2 separate regions of the Homo sapiens genome follow, and region 2 is linked to region 1. The links come from fine-mapping of genetic effects on gene expression. A gene starts in region 1. The other region holds a variant in brackets. All regions are shown on one strand. Distances are between the middles of the regions.

What was found.
Region 2: its variant is fine-mapped to the expression of CHFR in blood mononuclear cells (TOPMed, PIP 0.98).

Annotation. Positions count from the first base shown.
Region 1 is chr12:132,885,998-132,888,911 of GRCh38, reverse strand. CHFR (checkpoint with forkhead and ring finger domains) reads left to right here and starts at 1,307. Exons shown (of 18, transcript NM_001161346.2): 1 at 1,307-1,365; 2 at 1,572-1,716. The coding sequence starts at 1,584. It overlaps CHFR-DT (CHFR divergent transcript), which reads right to left and starts at 1,070. Exons shown (of 2, transcript NR_110919.1): 1 at 980-1,070; 2 at 341-792. RefSeq lists enhancers at 1-514, 851-1,260 and a silencer at 1,331-1,450.
Region 2 is chr12:132,831,181-132,834,094 of GRCh38, reverse strand. It overlaps CHFR (checkpoint with forkhead and ring finger domains), which reads left to right. Exons shown (of 18, transcript NM_001161346.2): 18 at 1-1,739. Among named protein-coding and RNA genes, the nearest start is that of GOLGA3, 3.8 kb to the right of the region's middle. The variant C/T (reference allele first, on the strand shown) is at 1,097.

The DNA of each region.
Region 1 (2,914 bases):
AAAGATGTGGAAAAGGAAGGAGATTCTCTACAAAGTAGATTTCCCCCAGGAGACAGTTTTGCAGGGCTACGTAAAACTATGTTAAATAAATACATGTCAGGGTAAAATACTTCGTTTTCTTCCAGGGCCTGCTATTTGTCATGTGATGTATCTTAATGCTACAGACCGTTTGGTCAGCCTTAAGTTGTCTGTTTTAACGTCGACGCTGGTCAGTTATACCTGAATTCCAAAGGGAGGACAGTATAATGGGACATATCCAAACCCTGCTTCCCATCAGGGACTGAACTGGTTTTTCAGATTAACTTTGGCGTTGAGAGACTCAGTTCATTCAGTTGGTTGGGGAGGCTTACAATTTTATTTTTGGTTTACAAGGTATAGATAACTATGCCTATACCTATATATACAAATGTTTATATATGTATATATGTGTGTATATATGGTTTGTTTTACACAAATGGATGCCTACTTTATTTATTTTGGTAGCGATGAGGTCTCAGGCTAATCTCGAACTCCTGGGCTCGAGATCCTCCTGCCTAGGCCTTCCAAAGCACTTAGATTACAGGCGTAAGTCACTGCGCCCGGTCCTGCTTCACCCTCTTAAAACCGCCCTTGGGGGCTCCTCATGAGTGCAGACATTGGCGCGTTCCTCCAAACCGCACAGACTCCCCCTGCGTGGACGCGTCTCGCCGTCTTTACTCCTCTTTCGCCGACCTTTCACTTTCAGGGAATACCCTCTGGCGCCCTTCTCTGGAGCACACACGTGAACGCCGCCGGATTCCAAGAAGTGAGATACTGAGGCAAAAGTTACGCGCGTTCAGAACAGGAAGACCCCGCAAAACGCCGGCCAAGACGTGGCCCCGCGTCCACCCTGCCCACAAGCAGCCGCTCCCACTCGCGGACCGCGCCCTGTGCCTCAGACTTCGGATCTGTGTGATCCACTGTGTGCAACTGTACCCGAAAGGGTCCCCACGTGCACTACCTCGTGACAACTAAGATGGACCGTCTTCTACTCCTAGGAGTCATCCCCAGATTAGCGGGGCTCTCAGAATCCTTGGGGCTTCCAATCCGGAAGTTCCCCGTCCCTTCTGCCCCAACATAACATGGCGCCGACCGCAGCCACTTCCGTGATCCGCAGGCGACGAAGTCGCCTGGTCAGGATCAAAGATGGCCGAGCGCCCTCCACGCGCCTACTCTCGCGGGCCACTCCCGGCTCCGCTTTAGCTGCCGCTCTTGGTGAGCGCCGCCGCCAGCCAATCGCGGGGCGCAGAGGCCTCTGGCCCCGCCCCGCGGATCAGCTGAGGGAGCCGCAATGTCTCTTGACAGCGGCGGCGGCGCAGCCGGTTCCGGGTTCGGCGCGGGGCGGGGGTAAGCGCGGCTGGCGAGGGGGCTGCGGCGGGCGGCGAAGGGGGACCTGGTTGCGGCCGTGGGAGGGGGCGCCCGCCGGCGTCCAGGCCGGGCTGCGGGGCTGCGTGGGCGCGGGCGGCCGGGCCGGGGCCCGCGGGGTGGGGCGGGCGCCGAGTCTCGGCCTCTGGGGTCGGGAGTCTCCATGGGCGTTTCCGGGGTCTCCGCAGATGTGAATCCCGATGGAGCGGCCCGAGGAAGGCAAGCAGTCGCCGCCGCCGCAGCCCTGGGGACGGCTCCTGCGTCTGGGCGCGGAGGAGGGCGAGCCGCACGTCCTCCTGAGGAAGCGGGAGTGGACCATCGGGCGGAGACGAGGTGCGGGGCTGAGGCCGGGGCCGGGGGCCGGGGCCGGGCAGAGCCACCGGGTTGCGGGCAGGCCACACGGGCGGCGGTGCAGTGTGCGCTCCAGATTTTTCCGTGGAGTGAAATGTCATGTAAGAACTGGTATTTATTCGGTGTTCTGCCCACCGATTCTTGCGCATGATTCACGCACATCATTTAGCCTTCGTTACAACTGTATAAGTTAGTTGTGTTCATATACTCTCCAGAATGCAATATTGTCACGTTCGTTGCCGTACAGAGTATCTTTTCTGACTGTAATGGAACGAAATTAAAAATAATAGAAGGAAAAGTGGAAAATTCACAGATATGTGGACATGAAACACCACACTCTTAAAGCAACCGGTGGGTCAAATAAGTCTTTACAACGGGGACCTTGTTTTGAGACAAATGAAACAAAAATAGAATACACCAAAAGGTATTTAGGATGCAGCCAAGGCAGTACTCAGAGGGAAATTTATAGCTGTAGTGCTTATATTAAAAAAGATCTCAAGTCCCAGCCCCTAGAATATTTATTTATTTAATAAACCTGGAAAGCTAAAAACTTGAACAAAGTCATACAACGGGTGAGAGAAAGTTCCCTCAGCCTCCACATTCACTGCCTCCAGTCTCCCAAGTGACCATCTGGTTGTTTGATTTCCTCTGAAGCCTTTGTATGGGGAGAGAAATGCGCTGGTCCTGTCAACAAAAATGTTTAGTTTGTCTGAAAATTAATGAATTAGCTCCGACATTATACTCTAAAAAGGAGCGAGGATGGGAAATATTTGCTGTTTGGAAGCAATTTTTTTTTTTTTTTTGGTTAATTTCACCCCTTATAATGTGCTTGCACCTGGTTTTTTTTGTTTTTTTGTTTGTTTTTTTGAGATAAGAGTCTTGCTCTGTGGCCCAGACTGGGGTGCAGTGGTGTGATCTCAGCTCACTGCACCCTCTGCCTCCCGGTTCAAGTGATTCTCCCGCCTCAGCCTCGGAGTAGCTGGGACTACAGGCGTGCGCCACCATGCCTGGCTAATTTTTGTATTTTTAGTAGAGATGAGCTTTCGCCATATTGCCCAGGCTGGTCTTGAACAACTGAACTAAAGTGATTCACCTGCTTCGGCCTCCGAAAGTGCTGGGATTACAGGTGTGAACCACTGTGTCTGACCTGGTTTTGTTTTTTGGGGTGTTTTGGTAGTCT
Region 2 (2,914 bases), 55 kb after region 1:
TCAGGCCCAACCCCAGGAGTCATCCTGCTGGCTGTCCTCAGTGCCCCAGGCTTCTCTTCAGGGGCTTCTTGTGGCTCTGATTGTTGCCCCCTCACCTCACTGCTCTTCTCCCAGATCTGTGCGTGCATTGGTCCTCCTTGTCACGCACGTTCAGCTCAAATATTACTTCCTCAAAGGTGCCTTTGAGTACTCGTTCTCCTTGCCTTTCCCTCTCCTGGGACACTGTTCCCACCAGTACCTGCATGATTCCTTTTTTTTCTTTTCCTTTTCTTTTTTTGTTTTTGAGACAGTGTCTTGCTCTGTTGTCAGGGCTGGAGGGCAGTGGCGCAATGTCAGCTCACTGCAGCCTCCACCTCCTGGGCTCAGATGATCCTCCCACCTCAGCCTCCTGAGTAGCTGGGACTACAGGTGCACACCACCACACCCAGCTAATTTTTAGTAGAGAGCAGGGTTTCACCATGTTGCCCAGGCTGGTCTTGAACTCCTGAGTTCAAGCGATCTGCCCGCCTCTACCTCCCACAGTGCTGGGATTCCAGGCGTAAGCCGCCACGCCCAGCAACTCCGTTTCTTACTTGTTGGCTCACATTCTCCTGAGAAGTCCTCCCTCAACCATCGGCCTGAAATAGCAGCGAGCCTCCCCAGGGTTGCCTCTGCCTTTTCTTGACTCTTTCTGTCACCTTCTATGCTTGTTGTCTGGTCCCCACTAGAATATACCTTCTGTAAGAGCAGGGATTTGGGACAGTGCCTAGAATAGTACTTGCAGACAGTAGGCTACGATAAATATGAATGACGGCCCCATGCAGATGGTAGCCCCTCTCGCTCGAACGCTTCACCCAGTTTTATTTTCTTTTCATCAGTTACCGCCCTCTGAAGGTATCCACACACAAACATGAAACTGGACCAAAGCAGGGACCCCCCGCACGCAGAATAGTGCTGGGCTCGCGTAAGGCACCTCAGTGGGTCCATCAGCTGATGCATGGACAGACAAAATGGGTGTATCCAGACACTGGAGTATCGTGCAGCGAGGAAACGTGCTGAGTGTGGATGGACCTTAAACACACCATGCAAGTGAAAAGGCGTCACAGAAGGCCACATA[C/T]GATATGATCCCATTTCTATGAAATGTCCAGAAGAGGCACATTCATAAAGACAGAAGGTGACTGAGTGGTTGTCGGGCTGGGTGGAGGGGATAGGGAGTGAATGCAAGAAGGATCCTTCTGAGGTAACGGAAGTATCCGGAAACTGGGTTGGAGTGATGGGTGCACAGCTCTGCACATTTACTACAGTCGCTGAACTGCACACACAACACGGGTATATTTTATTGCATAGAAATTGTATTAAAGCTGTTAAGAATTTTACTTAGATTAGCATTTTTCCCACACTGTGCCATCAACTTAGTATATGATTAGATTCATTGTTTCTAACTGTATTTAAATTTAATGTTTGTCACATTTTGCTTGCTAAATTTTTAAAATTTTAAATTACTGTGGGTACATAAAAGGTGTATATATTTATGGAGTACCTTGATATTTTAATACAGACATACAATGTATAATGATCAACTCCCAGTAACTGGGGTATCCATCACCTCAAGCCTGTATCATTTCTTTGTTAGGAACATTCCAGTTCCACTCTTTTTGTTATTTAAAAATATACAATACATTATTATTAACTATATTCACCCTCCTGTGCTATGGAATACTAGATCTTATGCTAATTAAATGTTTTCCCTATTTCTCCCATTGGCTACACCTTAGGATAGTGCAATATGAAAATCAGGAAACTGAGCTTGGTGGAGTGTTTTCTTCATTCTGTCATTTTATCACATGAGGACATTCACGTAACCACGGTCACAAAATACAGAACAGTTCCATCACCACAAAAATCTCTCTCCATCTACCCCTTTTTAGTCATCCGAACCCCACCACCACTCTATAATGCTGTCATTTTGTGACATAAGTGGACACATCGTACAGTTCATGCAGTGTAGACCTTCGGAGATGTTTTCCTCCCTGGATGTAATGCCTTGGAGCTTCGTCCAAGTTATTGCACACATCAGTGGTCAGCTCCTTTTTATTGCTGAGTAGTGTCCATGGCATGGGTGGTCCACGGTTTGTTTCACCACGTCAGAGTGGCATGGGTGGTCCATGGTTTGTTTCACCACGTCAGAGTGGCGTGGGTGGTCCACAGTTTGTTTTGCCACGTCAGAGTGGCGTGGGTGGTCCACGGTTTGTTTCACCATGTCAGAGTGGCGTGGGGGGTCCATGGTTTGTTTCACCATGTCAGAGGACATTTTGGTTGTTTCCAGTTTGGGGTCAGTAATGTACAGGCTTTTGTGTAGACATAAGTTTATTTCTCTGAGTTCAATGTCTAGGAATGCAGTTGCTGGGTCATAAAATTGTTTACTTTTTGAAGAAACTGCCCAACTATATTCCAGAGTGGGTGCACTATTGCTGTTCCCATCAGCAATGTATAAGAGATTAGTTACTCCAGAATACATTATTCCCAGCATTTCATATTGCCACTGCTGTATATTATTTCAGCTGTTCTAATAGGTGTATACTAATATCCCAAGGCAGTCTTTTTTTTTTTTTTTTTTTGAGACAGAGTCTGACTGTGTCACCCAGGCTGGAGTGCAATGGTGTGATCCCAGCTCACTGCAGCCTCCACCTCCCAGGTTCAAGCGATTCTCCTGCCTCAGCCTCCCAAGTAGTTGGTATTACAGGTACCTGCCACCATGCCCAGCTAATTTTTGTATTTTTAGTAGAAGCAGGATTTCACCATGTTAGTCAGGCTGGTCTCGAACTCCTGACCTCAGGTGATCCACCTGCTTCGGCCTCTCAAAGTGCTGGAATTACAGGCTTGAGCCACCGCGCCTGACCTCAAGATAGTCTTAATGTGCATTTCTGTAATGGCT